Regions from separate parts of the Homo sapiens genome. Here region 1 is linked to region 2. The links come from fine-mapping of genetic effects on gene expression. A gene starts in region 2. The other region holds a variant in brackets. All regions are shown on one strand. Distances are from middle to middle.

The links. PIP is the estimated chance that this variant, and not a neighbour inherited with it, causes the effect.
Region 1: its variant is the best candidate, but not a certain one, in a credible set for the expression of SYT2 in tibial artery (GTEx, PIP 0.74).

What each region holds. Positions count from the first base shown.
Region 1 is chr1:202,581,215-202,585,596 of GRCh38, reverse strand. It overlaps PPP1R12B (protein phosphatase 1 regulatory subunit 12B), which reads right to left. Exons shown (of 24, transcript NM_002481.4): 24 at 1-4,382. Among named protein-coding and RNA genes, the nearest start is that of SYT2, 130 kb to the left of the region's middle. The variant C/T (reference allele first, on the strand shown) is at 2,625.
Region 2 is chr1:202,708,280-202,712,661 of GRCh38, reverse strand. It overlaps SYT2 (synaptotagmin 2), which reads left to right and starts at 2,208. Exons shown (of 9, transcript NM_177402.5): 1 at 2,208-2,404.

The sequences.
Region 1 (4,382 bases), 130 kb after region 2:
GCAGAAATCCCAATAAATATGCTGATCTTCCTAAGAATGAATAAATCACAGAATTTTAAGCCAAAAGGAAAGGGCACATAAAGATTATCCAGTCCAACCTCATTTTACAGACAGGGAGGGTGACCTGCCCAAAGTCACATGACTAAAAGGAGAAGGGGTGGCCTTGGAATACAGATGTTCTGACTTCTAGGGTCTTATCTTTTAATGTTGCCTTTTTGTCCTCAAAGCTGCCTGCTTATTGGGTTGGAAGAACTCACATCTTATGAAGGGTTAGACCCTGCCTTGAAAATCAGTATGGTAGGCTGGGCGTGGGCCCTTACGCCTGTAATCCTATCGCTTTGGGAGGCCCAGCCAGGTGGATTGCTTGAGCCCAGCAGCTTCAGACCAGCCTGGGCAACATGGCAAAACCCCATCTCTACAAAAAAATTCAAAAATTAGCTGGGCATGGTGGTGCACACCTGCAGTCCTAGCTGCTCGGGAGCTGAGGTGAGAGGATCCCTTGAGCCTGGGAGGTGGAGGTTGCAGTGAGCTGAGATCACACCACTGCACTCCAGCCTGGGCGAGAGAGTATGGTGACTAAGATTTGTAGTAATAACTGGGCCTAGATTTAGGCCAATTACACGACCTCTGATTGGTAAGTGTGTGCTTAAAGTGCGGTCAGTGCTGGCATAAACAATGGGGTTTGAGGGCCCCTGATGATATCTCTGAGGGAAGGATACCAGGGCTCCTGCAGTGTTACTTCACTGATAAGCTCCAGTGGAACCAGTGGCTCATCTGGTAGAGTAGAATTTCCCTTTTCTTTCTGCTTAAATGCTGAATCCTTTCTGCTTTCTTTTTCCTTTTTGCACCTTTGGAGGTGCAAAGCCGCCTGGAAGCTGAATAACTGGCAACACTTTTAAATAGTTCTCTCTTCTCCAGGCTTCTTCTGCTCACTCCATGCCCACCTCAAGGGTGCCGACACTCACCAGTGGCCTGGACCGAAACACTGGCCTTTCTCTGAGAGGAGACAGTGTCTGTCTGTGGCTAGGAGAGGCTGCAAACAGGCCAAAAATCCAGACACCTAACAAAGTACATGGCTTTGAGAGTTTCTTCTTCCATCATCTTTGGCTCAATTAAATGCCTCTAGTGGAGAAACAGTCAGTAGTTTACACACACTTTCGTGGGATCCACAGACCATTAACTTGAGTTTTAGCTTCCTTGCTTCCTGAGTGGAACCATCTAATAAGCACATGGTTTGGGGAAGGGAAATGGGTAAAATGTTGCAAAAGAGAGATCTGAAATCTCACTAGTGGCCTCAGATAGCAATAAATGAATCTAAGTCTTCTTAAACTTGGGGTGGGAACTAGGACAGAAACCAGGGGAAGCCCAGAAGAGAAGTAAACACATCCTGCAGTTGGAAGACAGGGAGGTTCTAGGGAACATCAAATGAGAATGGCCCACTAGAGAATCTGGTACACTGAGTAAGCCCAAAGCATGTCTATTCTTTAGATTCTTTAGAGGCAACACCCTGAGATTTGCATAACCCTTTCGCTAGAGATTGGGATGGGGCTGGGGTCATCATACTCTGGAGCTATCTGGAAAAGGATCAGCAGCCCTGGAAAAACAAACTTTAGCCCCAGAATCTCTGGAATGGCCAAATCATTACTTCCAAAGGTGTGGCTCGGTTTTTGAAAAATAACAAATTAATGAAAACAGAGTTTTACCAGGAACATTCTCTTTCCCATTCTGATATTTCATGTAAAGACTCTAAGTTAAGTGACAGACCTGAGCCCCATGTTGTTGGCCATGTCTGCAGCTATTTATTCAGCTTGAGCTGCCTGGGGTGCTCATGAGTCTCCAAACCAGCAGGTGAGGACTGAGGATTGTGGCCACTGAAGAGGCCAGCAGTAGGTACCTGTCCAAGCAGCACAAGAAAAAGGAGACCTGCTGATGCCAGTATCCAGAGAGAACTGCTGGCTAGTAGAAGGCCTATAATTACCATCTCATGGGGCTTCCAGACAATACAGTTGTGAAGGAATGGTATTTTATCTCTGGAGATAGACCAGAAATCAGTTAATAAAATTAATTGCATAAGAGAAAGTACCTGAAATTACCTAGGATAGTTTACACTTACTTTCATGAGTTCTTGGCTATAGAATCCAGTATTCCTGAGATTGAAAAGCTTGCAAATTTCTTGTCACAAGGAAAACTTTCTGGCAAGAAAAGTCAGCTTTAACATGGAAGGGTCATGTGAAGTGGCAGGGATGCAACACCAATCTAAGAGTTTTGAGAATCTGCCCCCAGTACTTTTGAAAGGCACAAACAGATCTGAGGAGGCTCTCTGTAACCCCTTTCCCTGGTCTATTGAGTGGAAAAGGGTCAAGATGTATTCCTAATAATCCAATTTTCTTTTCTTGAGAAAGAAGTATCATCTTCCTTCCCCAATATTCAAAATGTTCCAGGATAATCAATTAGTCAACACCTTATGTTGATTTCCTCTCCCAGAATGAAGGATATAAAACTTATTACTCTAATTTAGCATTCCCTGAGAACTGAACTTACAGTACTCCCATGATAATACGAAGTCTCAAGATAGTAGCAGCTTCTCTTGAAAAATGGTTGGAAATGAAAGACAGAATTTTATA[C/T]ACTCTAAAAATGGGGTTTTGTCAGAGGAAACATATCTCCTGTTCTGTAATTGGGATTTTTTATTTATTTATTATTATTATTTTTTTTGAGATGGAGTCTTGCTCTGTCACCCAGGCTGGAGTGCAGTGGCGTGATCAAGGCTCACTGCAAGCTCCGCCTCCCGGGTTCACGCCATTCTCCTGCCTCAGCCTCCTGAGTAGCTGGGACTACAGGCGCCTGCCACCACGCCTGGCTAATTTTTTGTATTTTTAGTAGAGATTGGGTTTCACCGTGTTAGCCAGGATGGTCTCGAACTCCTGACCTCGTGATCTGTCCACCTCGGCCTCCTGAAGTGCTGGGATTACAGGCATGAGCCACTGCACCTGGTGGAATTGGGATCTTGAATTACAGCTTCTAGTTTAAACAGCATGTGGTGTTTCAGAGGGAGGACCATGGAGAGCTACATGTCATGTTAGGAAAGAATTAACAGACAGAGGTAGTATATATTAAGGGAATGAACCACTCTAAACACTGAATATCACTGGCAACCCTAAAATGATGAGGATTTAATGACTTGCACACTCAAGTGAACCAAGGGATAAAACTCCTACAAAAAGAAAATACTGTAAGTATTAATGCTAGGTTATCATCAAGAACTAATGGTTTAATTTTGCACTGGATTTGTATTCTTTCCAGGCCTGGACATGATATTTTAAAGGCTGGTTTTGTCTAGAGGAGGATGGCCAAGATGTGACAGGTAAGAAAAGCATGCCATATGAGGAATGACTTAAAGGACTAGAGTAACAGCAGCTCAAAGTAAGACTGAGGGGGAGACCACCCACTGCACATATCTCAAGTGCCGTTAAAGAGTTGCAGATAGTAGATCTGGACTACAAGGAGAATCCACAGGCAGACTTCAGCTGATATGAGGAAAAACTCTCTCGTTATTAGAGTTGCCCAACTTTTGAGTAATAAATGCATAGCCACCAGAGGCTACCTGACCATGCCCATGGGTGAAAGCTGTGGTAGCAGGGGTCCCTGTGACACAATAATAGAAAGCTGGACCTAATGACCTCTGGGTCTTGCCACTCTAAACTTCCATGACTCTCATCAATGGGTTGAAAGTACTTCATTCCATTAAACCTCTATTAAGTGCCATTTCCCCTATTAATTTCTAAGAAAGTAAATCTCTCTGCTAAATCTAACCACTGGAAATAATCAAATTCACCACTATTCTCACAGCCCAGTAGGCTGCTATCTTCCATCTTCTTTGTCACAATGTTGCAAGTGGCCTCAGATACTTGACTTTCGCCATATGTGTCTTTCCAGCCTGCTTCCACTTCCTAGTCCATCTCTCAACAATCTCCCCTCCCCACCTCTCATTCCTCCTTGCACTGACTTCATTTCTCATTAGAAGCAGGTGTCAGGGCGAAGAGAGGAAAACAAGGTCAAGGAAGTGAGGCAGAATGGAGTATTCAGAGCCCAAATTTTCTTATAAAGAAAATCACTTTGAAGGGGGAAGATAAGTGGGAGACGAAAACAATGAGCTGACACTTATGCCATAGTCTACCTTCCAGGGAGCAGGCAGTGGTGCTGCCACCAAGGCACCAGAGTGATGATTTTCTTGTCTCCAGAATAATGACTTCCCACAATGGCCAAAGACAACTGAGGTCAGGTGCTCTGTCCTAGCTTTTATACCATTGAGTGAGGGGGTGGGGAAGGGAAAAATATAAAAGGATAGAAAGGAAAGGAATAAATGAAGCCAGGGCCATTTGCGC
Region 2 (4,382 bases):
GATGTCTTTTCCATTCTTTCCTCTTCCAGCTCCTGAAGCCTGGGGGAATAAGCAAGAGGGATGTTGAGCTCTTGATTAGGTTTGTAACCCAGACACTACTGGTCCTGATGAATTAAAAGAACATTAAGGCTGTAGCCAGCGACACCACATTTTTCATTTAACCAAATTGATTACAGCTCTGACTCTCCTAATAGCCTGGGAAGGCAGGCTGGCTTCCTCTGACGTGCTTAGGAGAAGAAGCTGGGGCACCAGATTGACACAAGGCTTTGATCAGAACAGTAGGCAGCTGAGTCTGCTGCCGTGGAAAAGTTGAAGCGCATCAGGCCAGTTCGCTTGGCTTGATTCTGTGCGAGGGGGCTGCAGCCCTCTTTCTGGCTGGAGTCCTGCAGATACTGGTTGTTGGCATGGGGAGCAGGAAGGAATGAATAGAGTAGAGCCAGCCCCTTTGGGGAAGCAACAAGTCCTGGAACACACCTGGCTAAGGGTGGGGGTGGTGGGTAACCTCTTTGAATGTAAAGGTCTCATTAGTCCATTGTAACTTGGCTCCCCATTTCCTCCACTGCCCTTGTTCTGGCTGCTCCACAGGTGAAGGGGGAGGGCCTCTGTGCCTCAGGGGCTGTGAGCACAGCTTCAGCCTGATTGAGGACTCCCCAGAGGTCTTCCCCCACCTTTTTCGTAACATCCACTGAGTCGGCAGCCACTTGCCGCCTTGCTCTGAGGCAAGCCAAACTGGGGATAGTCTCCAACTGGGGATGGTCTGCCAGTAACACCTGGTATTATTGGCACAGTGATCTGAAAAGTGCCCTCCACTGCCTCTTCTCTCCCCAAAGCCTGAATCCCACTTGTTCTTTGCATCTCCTCATATTGCATTCATTCCACCTCTCACTCACTCACCTAGTACGTATTGAAGACTGACCTCAGGCCATGTACGGTTTTGTACCCAAAAGCGAGGCAGGATGCTACAGTCCTATTATAAAAGTTAACTCCAGGCCAAGCGCAGTGGCTCATGCTTGTAATCCCAGCACTTTGAGAGGCTGAAGTGGGTGGATCCCTTGAGGTCAGGAGTTCGAGACTAGCCTGGCCAACATGGCAAAACCCCATCTCTACTAAGAATACAAAAATTAGCCGGGTGTGGTGGCGCACGTCTGTAATCCCAGCTGCTCGGGAGGCTGAGGCGGGAGAATCCCTTCAACCCAGGAGGCAGAGGTGGCAGTGAGCCAAGATCGCGCCACTGCACACTGCACTGCAGGTTGGGTAACAGAGTGAGACTTGTCTAAAAAAAAAAGAAAAAAAAAAGTTAACTCCAAAAGAGTTAAAGCGGATATTCAAATTGTGCTGTAAGGAAGTTCTGGTGCTGCCCTGGCAGCTCCTGGGTAGGTTAGGAAGGGCTCTGTTTTGCCCTTGCCACCCTTCTCTTTCTCCCAGGCTCTTCCGAAATGCCACCACTTAACTGTCTGCAGCTCCTTGGTCCAACGCACCATTCAGGGACTGTTTCCCCACCTGCAAACTGCCCACGCAAAATGCCCACCTTAAAGGGATGTCTTACGTATTAAGCAAACTAACATGTGTGAACACCCTGTCTTTAATAACCAGTAGCGTCCTCCTTTTCTTTCTACCGTCTTCCAGCTCCTCTCTCCTTGTCACCCTGCAGTTCTTACTCTCCCCTCCGCTGTTCTATTTCCATAGGCCTCAGGCACCGCTGTCTTCTCTCAAGCATCCTCCTCTCTCTCACCCAACCTTTAGGCTCAGAAGCCCCCACCATCCAGGTGGCCAATATAGGTAGCGGTGACCTAAGCGGAGAGGGGAGGAGGGGAGGCTAGGGGCTCAGGGATCCCAAAATGGCCATGGGGATGGGGGCTCCTGAGCCCAATAATTTAGCCTTGAGCTGCAGTGGGTTCGGGAAGTTGGAGAGAAGGAGCTGGCTAGAAAGGAGACCAGCCTTCTGGGGTGGGGAGTATAGAGCTCCTTTCCAGTCCGCCTTCCTGCTGGGGAAGCAGCCTCCTTGACCTTGAGCAGGAGGCGGGGGCGCCGAGCGCCTGGGGGGCTGCGCAGAAAGAACCCGTCCCGGGGGGCAGGCCCGCCCTCCGCCTCCTCCGGGCCTCCTCCGCCTCGGTCCCCGCCCTCCCACGCCGCTTGGTCTCCTCCCCTCACTGCAGCGCTCGCCGCGCGCGCCCATCGATCAGGCCCCCTCCCTCTGCCGCCTCGGCGCAGACTGCTAAGCTCAGCAAGTCTTGCGGCAAAGGCACTTCGGAGCCGAGTTGGGGCAGCGGTGGAGCGGGGACTTCGCGCCCCCAGGGGAACGGGCGCCCCTGCGAAACCGTCGCCAGCCACGCGTCCTTGCCGTCCGACGCCCCCTCACATTGGAGACCCCGGATCTCTCCCGCCTCCTTCGGGTCGCTCTCCGGTAAGTCCATACCCCCGCCGGTGGGGGCACGGACCTCCCTCTCCAAAGTTTCTCCTTTCCTGCTACTGAGTCGAGGGGCCACGGGGTGGTCTGGGTCCCGAGAGGTGAGTAGGGTTGGGGAAGTTTGAGGCCAAGGGGGCCGGGAGTCTGCCCCGTCCTTTGGGGGAGTTTGGAAGCGTCCGGATGGAAGGTTCGTCTCGGGGAGTCGGACCCGAGGGGCGAGGAGCCGGCTCCTCTGAGGGACTGGGGCTGGGCTGGGGGCAGATTTCCTCCCGCGGGTTGCTGCAGAGAGGGGCGGGCCACGCGTCCCCTGCACCGGCCGGCTCTGCGCCCCCGTCCCTCTCTCCTTTCCCTGGGACGAACCCACTCGCGTCTAGCCCAGCCCCCGCCAGCCCTAGCGGTCTCCAAGGAAGGTTCTTTTGCCCCAGTCTCAAGCTTCGGGGACCCCTGGCACCGCCGTCGTGGGAAGTGGGGCGGGGGGTGGGGTCTGGGCGCTGGGAGCCGGAGACCCTGGGTCAGGGAGAGGTTGGGGAGACAGACTGCAGGGGCCATCTGGAAGCAACGGGCACGAGGAGCTGGGGCAGGGGCCCAAGAAGGGGCTGGAGGCGCCCCTCCCCTCTCTCCAAATCTCATGACTCAGCACGACCTAGGACGCCCCGTCCCTGCTTCAGCTCTGTCCCCAAGGGCTAGGCTCGCAGCCTGGCGGGTGCTGACAGCCCGACTCCCTTTTCTGGACTCTTCCATGTACCTTTCCCATTTGGGGTGCCCCCTTCCCCTGCCTATGCTCCTTCCCCCACCTCTGGGGCACAGGGCTTTTATTTTTCAACTAAAAAGTGGAGCTTTATCGTTTCACATCCCACTAAGCCAGGCCCCCTCATCCTGTCTCCTCCCTTTTCATCCCCACATTCCACAGGTGCCTCCAGGACACCCCCAGCCCATGGCTCGTGGGGTGTCTCCTGGCAGGGCAGTGTCCTCCCTTACCCCTGGCTGAGGTGGCAGAGTAGGTGCTCTCCCCGCAGCAGGAGAAGGGAGTGCAAGGACAGAAGAGGTGCTGGCCCAGGAGGGGCCACTGCAGTGGGGAGGGAAGGGCAGAGGCCCCGTGGGCAGGTAGTACAGGTTGAGTTAGCTTATAAGGAGGAGGAAGTCCTTAGGATCTGGGGGCGCCCAGGAAGCCAGAAAGGTGAACTGGGGTCTGACCTGGAAAGCAAAAGGGTGCCCTTCTCCCTCCCCTACTGCTGCCGCCCTGCGGGGCCTCTCCCAGGTGGAATAGATTGTCCTCCATCCAATCTGTCTGGATCCCCATAACCTGGCACTTCATTAGAGGGGGTGACAGAAGCAGGGAAGCCCTTAATCCTTTCAACCATCTCTCCCTACTTAAGACTAAGTCCAGCTTTGGGGCTGCTAGAAACATCTCTGTGACCAGCAGAGGTGCTGAAAAAAGCCATGCCCAGTGCCCCAAAGGCGGGCCCGAGTGGCAGGTGGAAGGGGGCAGGGTGGCTCTGATGCAGTGGGACGTGCCTGGCATCCTGGTCCTGTGGAATGAGAGTGGTGGTCTGGCAGGCACTGCAAGCTGCAGCGTGTGTCAGGGCCCTGGGGGTGAGTCAGCGTCAGGGGTCCACGCCAGGCACACTGCAGCCTAGGGAGTCCAACTCCAACCCATCTCCTCCCATGCCCCTGGAAAATGGCCAGTGCCCACTGAACCCCGACTGAACCACCTTTCCCTCAGGGTGGCTGCCTCTGCTCTGCTTGGCTGCCAGGCAGATCCCTGGCTTCACCCTCTAGGACTCCCCCCAGAGGCTTGGCTTTTTCTGGAGATCTTTTGGGCTTAATCCTTACCTTCTCCCCTCCTTGTCTTGCCAAAGGAGGAGGAGAGGGAGGCAGAGGAAAGTTTCTAGGTTATAGCCTCACATAGACCTGGCCCACCATTCCCTGGAGGAAGAGAGACCAGACCACTCTGCTGGGAGTCTGCTTTGTTCTG